3 separate regions of the Homo sapiens genome follow, and all the other regions are linked to region 2. The links come from fine-mapping of genetic effects on gene expression. A gene starts in region 2. Each other region holds a variant in brackets. All regions are shown on one strand. Distances are between the middles of the regions.

Region 1 (2,676 bases), 170 kb after region 2:
TCTTTCATCACATAATGCTTGTATGATCACTGCGTGGAAACCACTCCCAGTGTTGGGAAAATTAGATGAGCCTCTGAGATAGGAATAGATTAGGTATATACATGAAGTTGGCAGAGGGAATACAGTTGAACAAAGTAGTGGTTTCATACATTACTAATCTAAAATCATAAATCCCAGCGAGAGGTTTGCAGTGATAATAAGATTTACGTTTTATGCAAAATTTAGTCTAAAGGGAAATTGTTTTGAATTACTGACAACCTTGAATTTATCAAATCCTGATTACAGGGCTACAAGGTGACCCCATGTTGGAAGGAATTATCTTGATGTATTTTACATATTTATTTATTTTATTAATAAAATGTCATTTCTTTATTTAAAACAGTTTATTAGGCATCTCTTTATTTGAAGCAGAAAAGCATAGATAAAAATACAAATATTGGCCTGGCACAGTAGCTCACGCCTGTAATCCCAGCACTTTGGGAGGCCAAGGTGGGCGGATCACAAGGTCAAGAGATCGAGACCATCCTGGCCAACATGGTGAAGCCCTGTCTCTACTAAAAATACAAAAATTAGCTGGGCGTGTTGGCGAGTGCCTGTAGTCCCAGCTACTCGGGAGGCTGAGGCAGGAGAATCACTTGAACCCACGAGGTGGAGGTTGCAGTGACCTGAGATCGTGCCACTGCACTCCAGCCTGGCGACAGAGCAAGACTCTGTCTTTTTTTTTTTTTTTTGAGGTGGAGTCTTGCTCTGTCGCCCAGGTTAGAGGGCAGTGGCGCAATCTCAGCTCGCTGCAAGCTCCGCCTCCCAGGTTCATGCCATTCTCCTGCCTCAGCCTCCTGAGTAGTTGCGATTACAGGTGTGCGTTACTACACCTGGCTCATTTTTTTGTATTTTTAATAGAGACAGGATTTCACCATGTTGGCCAGGCTGGTCTTGAACTCCTGACCTCAAGTGATCCACCCACCTCAGCCTCCCAAAGTGTTGGGGTTACAGGCATGAGCCACCACGCCCAGCCCATTTTATAAGTACATTTTGTGCCCAATCAAGTATCAAAGACATAATCTTAAAATAAAGGACAGTTCTTCCCAAGGGAAAAAGAAAGTAGGCAACCTGACACATGAATAGATGATGTATGCTACTGTTACACGCACACACACACACTCAGAATAGACTGTGATGCTGTGATAACAAACCACTTCAAGTCCCAGTGGCTTAAAATAACAAAGGTTTGCCTCTCGCTCATTCATGCTGTTGTGCGCCGGCTAGAGGGGGCAGGGCTCTGCTCTCTCTGCCCTCACTCCGGAGGCCCAGTCTGGGAGCAGTTGCATCTCTGAGCTTCAAGGGCAGTCAAGTCAAGAAAAGGGAAGGTGGCACATCGTCCACCGTCTCTC[G/A]AAACTTCCTCCTGGAAGTGACACCTGCTATTTCACTTACGTTTAATTACCCAAAGCAAACCAGATGGTCAAGTCAGAACTCAGAAAGGGTGGGGAAATGCAATTTTACCAAGAGGCAGGAAGAAATAGATAACGGAATAACGCCAGTGAGTACTGCAGCTGAATCCAGTGCAACTGAATTGTCCTGGTTCAAACAATTAAAAAAGACTTTGTGTGTGTACTTTCACCAGCTTCTTCACAGACCGTCGCCCATACTTGAGTGAATCTTCCTCCTGTGCATGCTACTGTATATGATAAGTGGAAGAGAATAGAGAGTGTTGTCAGGGACATTTTTGAGGAATACTGAAGTCTACTTGGGACAGTGAAACACACTGGACGATGAGCTTCCAGCTGCTTGTTTTCCTGCTGGACTGTCTGTGAGTTCATCTTCTTATTTAAAGCTCCTTGTTACTGAGTGCCTCCTAGCAGCAGTTTCCTTTAGCCCTCTCTAGGAGGAGCACAAATGCCTATTCCTGGCAGCCTGAGCATGTCGTCTTAGGCGTCCTCTCGTGACCTGTGGTCTGGTGTTTTGCACAATCTTCATCACCACTCCTTCTAGAAGGACTGAGAACTGAATTTGACTTTTAAAACGAAGCTTGGTAATCAAGAATAGCAACAGCAGGCTGAGTACGGGGGCTCACGCCTATATTCCTAGGACTTTGGGAGGCTGAGGCGGGTGGATCACTTGAGGTCAGGAGCTCGAGACCAGCCTGATCAACATGGTGAAACCCTGTCTCCACTAAAAAAATACAAAAAAAAAAAAAAAAATGGGCGTGGTGGTGCATGACTGTAGTCTCAGCTACTCAGGAGGCTGGGGCAGGAGAATCGCCTGAACCCATGAGGCGGACATTGCAGTGAGCCAAGATTGTGCCACTGCACTCCAGCCTAGGCAACAGAGCGAGACTCCATCTAAAAAAAAAAAAAAAAAAGAGCCGTGGTAGTTCTGAAGGGGAAGAGCAAGGAAGGTTTCTTCCCTGCAAAACACAAGGCTGCAGTAGCGAATCAGGATTGCCTTGGGGCTGAGGTAGATTGTTAGACCAATGGGAGCAACTCTCAGGTTCATTCCTGTGTTTATGGGGAGGTGGGATGAGCTTGAGCATGCTGTTACTACCAATGGGAAAAGAATGGATGTGTTCATATATTGTGCTAGGAAAACAGAAAAAGGTAAAATTAAACTTCTATAATAAAAACCATGGTGGATTCAAGACCTCACTATGAAAAAAAAAAAAACTTGAAACTGTTGAAA
Region 2 (2,676 bases):
ATCCCTGTCCTATTTCCCAGAGGTAACTGCTGTTAATAGTTTAGTTGTGTGCTTCCAGACATACCTTCACAGAATCATTTATCACAATAAAGGTGTCATACTATGCAGATTGTTTGACAAGATGCTTTTTTTCACTTTACACGGGCATCTTTTCATACCATTGTGTGGCCAGGCCATGATTTGTTTTCCAAAAGACATTTACCCAATTTATATGGTGAAGATTTTTGTCCATATTACTTTTTATAGTATTTCTGTAGGGTAAGTTCCCAGAAGTAATATTGCACGATCATCGAAAAATTTTAGTGTTACATTACTGCCCCATAAAGGTACTAATTAACATCCCTCTCAACAACATAGAAGATTCCTTTTTTTTTTTTTCTTTTTTTGGGTGGAGGGGGGCGGGGACAGAGTCTTACTCTGTCGCCCAGGCTGGAGTGCAGTGGTGCCATTTCTGCTCACGGCAACCTCCACCTCCCGGGCTCAAGCTATTCTCCTGCCTCAGCCTCCCAAGTAGCTGGGAATACAGGCACGCGCCACTACGCCCAGCCAATTTTTGTAGAGAAGGGGGTTTCACCATGTTAGCCAGGCTAGTCTCGAACTCCTGACCTTGTGATCAGTGCTGGGGTTACAGGCGTGACCCACCGCGCCCGGACGGATTTCTTGTTTTCATACTGTCATCAACTTTAAATACAAGTATTTTCAGTTTTTGCCAATGCTGTTAATTTAGAAATGTGTATGTATATATTGTCTGGTGGGTGTTTGGATGGAAACGATCAAAATCGGGCAACTTCCCCAGTTTCCTTGAAGGGAGTGCTTGCCATCGGCCCCTCTGGGAAGTAGCTCTCCGTAGTTCTCCATCTTCCTGTTTTGAGGAACGCAGGAGGAGGTGGATCTGGAGTCTCATCCATTCGGTGGCTGTTAACGGCAACTGCAGCAGCCAGCCAGGTCACCCCCTAAAGCAAAGTTAACCCCTTGCATGGTGCCTTGGTCAGCACCCACCAAATTCGAGGTTTCTCCTATCCTTCGACTCGAGGCTCTTTTGACAGATGTGATTTATTTCCTCCTAGAGCCAGTCACATTGGCTCAAGCAACCTATCGTAAGAAAACAAATACAATAGTGTTTTAGCTGGAAACTGCCCACTGTCTAAGCGGCTTTTTAAATTAAGAACTCAGGTTCACTACGGGATGGCTTAGGCCAGGGAACAGCATGTGCGAAGTTCGAAGCCCGAGAAGTTTGGAGGAGCGGCCCCAGGCGCAGGCGGGTCCCGCAGCGGGGCCCGTGCCGCCCAGGCGATCAGCCCCTTCACTTAACCCGCTTCCCTCCTAGCAGGCCCGAGTCCCCTAGCCTCAGCCTCACGCAGCCAGAGCAAGGGGAAGAGGGAGTCCTTCGTGAGTTCGCCGCTCACATTCGGCGGTGGGAAACCGATCCGAAGATGCTTTTGTAGGCGAAACGCTCAGCTCGCGCGGCTCTGAACCACCGGGGAGCAGCGGCTGCTGCTAGTCGGACTACGCCAGCACCTCCTTGTCCAGCCCGGGAGCAGCCCCGCCTCGCTCAGGGCCGCGTGCGCGTGCGCGGCTCCAGGGGCGGGGCCTGCTCGCGTCCCGGGTGCCTGGATACCGAGCGCGTCCGTAGTGGCGGCTGGCGCTAGGGAACTGCAGGGTCTAGGGTGTTGTCGGAGTGGCAGTTGGTCCGAATTTCTCCCGAAGCCCGCGGAGGAGCGGGTAAGAGCCCCGCGAATCCGGCCCCAACCTCGGGAACGGGATGGGAGGCGGCCCTGGCCGCAAGCCCCGCGCTGCTAGCGGGTCCACCGCGTCGTAGCCGACAGCCGCCCTTCTTCCTCGCAGCGCGCCGCGATTCACCAGCCTGGTCCCTTCTGCGGAGAGCGATGCCGCTTCCCGACACCATGTTCTGCGCTCAGCAGATCCACATTCCCCCGGAGCTGCCGGACATCCTGAAGCAATTCACCAAGGCTGCCATCCGCACCCAGCCGGCCGACGTGCTGCGGTGGTCCGCGGGGTAAGCGCCCTTGGCCCGGGGAGCTGTCCGGTCTACATGCCCAAGCCAGACGAGCCCAGAGAGCCCTCCTCCCGGACCAGGGGCCTTACGCGGCACTCAGCGTCCTTAAGAGTATCAGGCAAAACTTTCCCCTTAGCATTGGTGACATCTATACTTGAGTGTTTTATCTAGGAACCATTTCGATTTATCGACTATGAGACCCGAAATCATTGCAAAATGCTCACTTACCTACAACGTAATGGCAACTCAATTGTTTAAAAGTGTTTATGATGAAGATAGACTAAAACTTAACAAAGTAATTGCATTGGGCAAAAAAGTGTTTACATTATGTTAAAAAAATTACACGGTTGCAGTCACTTTGTGAAATGACTTTACAAAGAGGAATATTTTAGCTAAGTTCCTCATCTGCAGAGAGTCCTCTCAGAGCTATGTATACCCAGAGCTGGTTAAATTTATTAGAACCGGAACGACCGTGGTCATACTGAGGTCATCATCCCTAGAGTGCTCAGGGTAAACTGTCCAGCAAATGAAGCTTCACAGTTTATTTTTTGCCACAAACATTCCAACACTTGCCAGGAACAGACATTCATAATCTCAAAGTTACAAGTCAACAGATCTTAGAGGCATTAAAAGAAATCCTCTTGGTTTTACAGGAGAGC
Region 3 (2,676 bases), 22 kb after region 2:
TGTTCACCTTCCTGTTGGTCTCGATGTGTTTAGCTTCCGGGAAACTTTCTAAGCCCTGTCCTTTTAGGGTTTCTTTTTCCTGGAAGCTTTGTGATTGATTAAATCATTGGCCAATAGTGATCACCTAAGCCATCAGCCCCTCTCCCCACCTCCAAGGTTGGGCTGGGCTGAAAGTCCCACCCCTCTAATCCTGCCTTGGGCTCTCCAGTGACCAGCCCCATCCTGAAGCTACCTGGGCCATCAGCCAATCACAAGCATAAAGAAAGAACTCACTTTGGAGATTCCACAGATTTTACTTGTATGCCAGGAGCGGGGGTTGAAGACCAAATATATATTTCACAATATCACATCCCTTGTCTGCAATAACTTTGTCCCAACGAATCCCGTGTTTGGCAGAAGGTTTAGGCACACCTGATAGTATTCAGGGTGTGTGTAAGTGGAGCCGCAGATCAAAGGCCATCAGCGAAAGCAAGCAGCACCTCAGAAGGGAGCCCGACCTCTCCCGTGGCTCCCACCCATGTGGGCTGAGGCTCAGGTTTTTTTAGACTTTAGAGGGAGAGAATGTATCTTGTCATTAAGACTCATTTATCCCAGATCTATCCTGATTCCTATGTACAGCATGTCAGGTGGTACTAAATTGTAGCATGTTAAAAAGTGAGATAGAGGCTGGGCACGGTGCCTCACGCCTGTAATCCCAGCACTTTGGGAGTCCGAGGCAGGTGGATCACTTGAGATCAGGAGTTCGAGACCAGCCTGGCCAATATGGCAAAACTCCATCTCTACTAAAAAAATAACCAGGTGTGGTGGTGGGTGCCTGTAATCCCAGCTACTCAGGAGGCTGAGGCAAGAGAATCTCTTGAGCCCTGGGGGGGCAGAGGTTACAGTGACCCGAGATTGTGCCATTCCACTTCAGCCTGAGCAACAAGATCGAGACTCCGTCTCAAATAATAACAACAATAATAATAATAATAATAATAATAACTTAAAAAGTGAGATAGAATTCATTTCTCCACAATGAAACGTAGACATGGATTACTGCTGGTGGACCTCCTGACAGTAGTGCCACGGATGCAGGATCATTTGCAGAAACTTGAGGATGTCATTGACATCAGCCACGCAATTCTCACTCTGATGAACTTGCTATATGACCCCGACACATTGCATGTTATGTTGTATTTGCACCAGGCTGCATGTGATGTAAGGCTGGTTCTGCTCTGAAGCATGACTTGGAGCTAACGTTGGAATATATTGTCCAGTGTTCTGATCACCTGTAAC[A/G]TTTTTAAACAAGATTAATGAATCCTCCCTTTAAAGACAAGATGCAGAGTAAAAAGGAACAAAGCTCTTGGGTCCTGCGGAAGTTCTCATTTGTTCATTCCCTAAACCATCATTGGGTGCTGACTCTGCACCCTGCACTACCTATGGGGAGGCAGAGAGAGCAGCCCAGGGCTGGTGGGGTGGGCAGAGGTGGTGGTGACAACCGCAGGGTCCGGGGAGCTGTGGTGCTGCAGAGTAAGCCTGGTTAACAGCAAGAAAGGGCCTTCTAGGTGCAAGGGCAGGAAAGGGCCCAGGTCCTCCAGGCTCCAGCCCCAAGGGAGATGGGGTCCCTGAGGTCTTCCCGGCACTTCCCCTTGGGACCACTGCCCCCCAAGTGCTGGTTATGGTTTGTCCCTGAGCCCCACACCTCTCATCTCGAATTGCCCACAGTACAGTTTATTGAGCACCTGCTCTGTGCCAGGCATTGGCGCAGGTGCCGGGGATGTAGTCAGTGAACAGGTCACGCCCTGACCCCTGGAGTTTTGCCCTGTGGAGCAGACAGACATCAGACAAGCAGATTTTAAGACAGTAGGTCATGTTCAGTGCCAAGAGGACAGTAAGCCAGGGATAGGGACCAATGGGGGCTGGTCCCAGGGCCGCCTTCTGGCACAGCACACACCCCTGCTCGCCTCAGCCTCCTGAGAAGCCCCCTGGCCTGTCATCACCACCCAGAGTCTTGTCCCCTCCTCCCACCCTTTCCAACCGGCCATGATGCCACCTAGGATGCAGGCCACAGCACCAGGAGCTGGCGCTCAAGTGATCCGCCAGCCTCCGCCTCCCTTCCTGTGCCAGTGGAGCCTGCGTTCTGTGCCCTGCCCCACCTGTCCCAGCCGTCCTCGTCTCCTTGTCCCTTCCACATCGTTTCCTCTCCTTCCTTCAAACTCACATCCCCTCTGCCCACCATGGGCTGAGCCTCTGGACTCCATGGTCCCTCTTTTTCCTCCTTCCTCTGTCATCCACTGTCACTCCAACCCTCCTGTCCTCGTGGAAGACCGCAGCTCCCAAGCCATCCCTTCTGTCCGCCTTATTCTTGACACCATCCTGGCTGGTGTCTGCAGTCACATGGACGACACAGTACTTTGTCCCCAGCTCTCCTCCTGGTGCCCACAGCCTCTGCTTCTGCACCGCCATCCGGGTCATGCTGGGCCCCTTCTCCTGCCCGATCCGCGCACCTCTTCTCTTCTTTTGTGCTCTCTGATGCGGCTACTCCGCCTGACAGAGCCACCTGGGACATGGGTGGTTCCATCTCATTCCAAATCCATGTCCCAAGCCTCCAAAGAACTGGGACCCTGTGCAGCAGCCACTTCTCCCACCACTTTCCTGAGATCACAAGTCATCAAAAAAGAAAAACCTATGCATATA

Evidence for each region.
Region 1: its variant is fine-mapped to the expression of ROPN1L in whole blood (TOPMed, PIP 0.97).
Region 3: its variant is fine-mapped to the expression of ROPN1L in whole blood (INTERVAL, PIP above 0.99).

The regions. Positions count from the first base shown.
Region 1 is chr5:10,606,016-10,608,691 of GRCh38, forward strand. All of the region lies in intron 1 of ANKRD33B (ankyrin repeat domain 33B), which reads left to right. Among named protein-coding and RNA genes, the nearest start is that of ANKRD33B, 43 kb to the left of the region's middle. RefSeq lists a silencer at 1,231-1,280 and an enhancer at 1,951-2,200. The variant G/A (reference allele first, on the strand shown) is at 1,392.
Region 2 is chr5:10,440,282-10,442,957 of GRCh38, forward strand. ROPN1L (rhophilin associated tail protein 1 like) reads left to right here and starts at 1,598. Exons shown (of 5, transcript NM_031916.5): 1 at 1,598-2,017. The coding sequence starts at 1,887. It overlaps ROPN1L-AS1 (ROPN1L antisense RNA 1), which reads right to left and starts at 1,570. Exons shown (of 2, transcript NR_102746.1): 1 at 1,407-1,570; 2 at 454-1,092. It overlaps MARCHF6 (membrane associated ring-CH-type finger 6), which reads left to right. Exons shown (of 26, transcript NM_005885.4): 26 at 1-107. RefSeq lists a silencer at 1,452-1,711.
Region 3 is chr5:10,461,948-10,464,623 of GRCh38, forward strand. All of the region lies in intron 4 of ROPN1L (rhophilin associated tail protein 1 like), which reads left to right. LOC124900940 reads left to right here. Exons shown (of 1, transcript XM_047417967.1): 1 at 1-2,676. The coding sequence starts at 2,023. Among named protein-coding and RNA genes, the nearest start is that of MIR6131, 15 kb to the right of the region's middle. The variant A/G (reference allele first, on the strand shown) is at 1,276.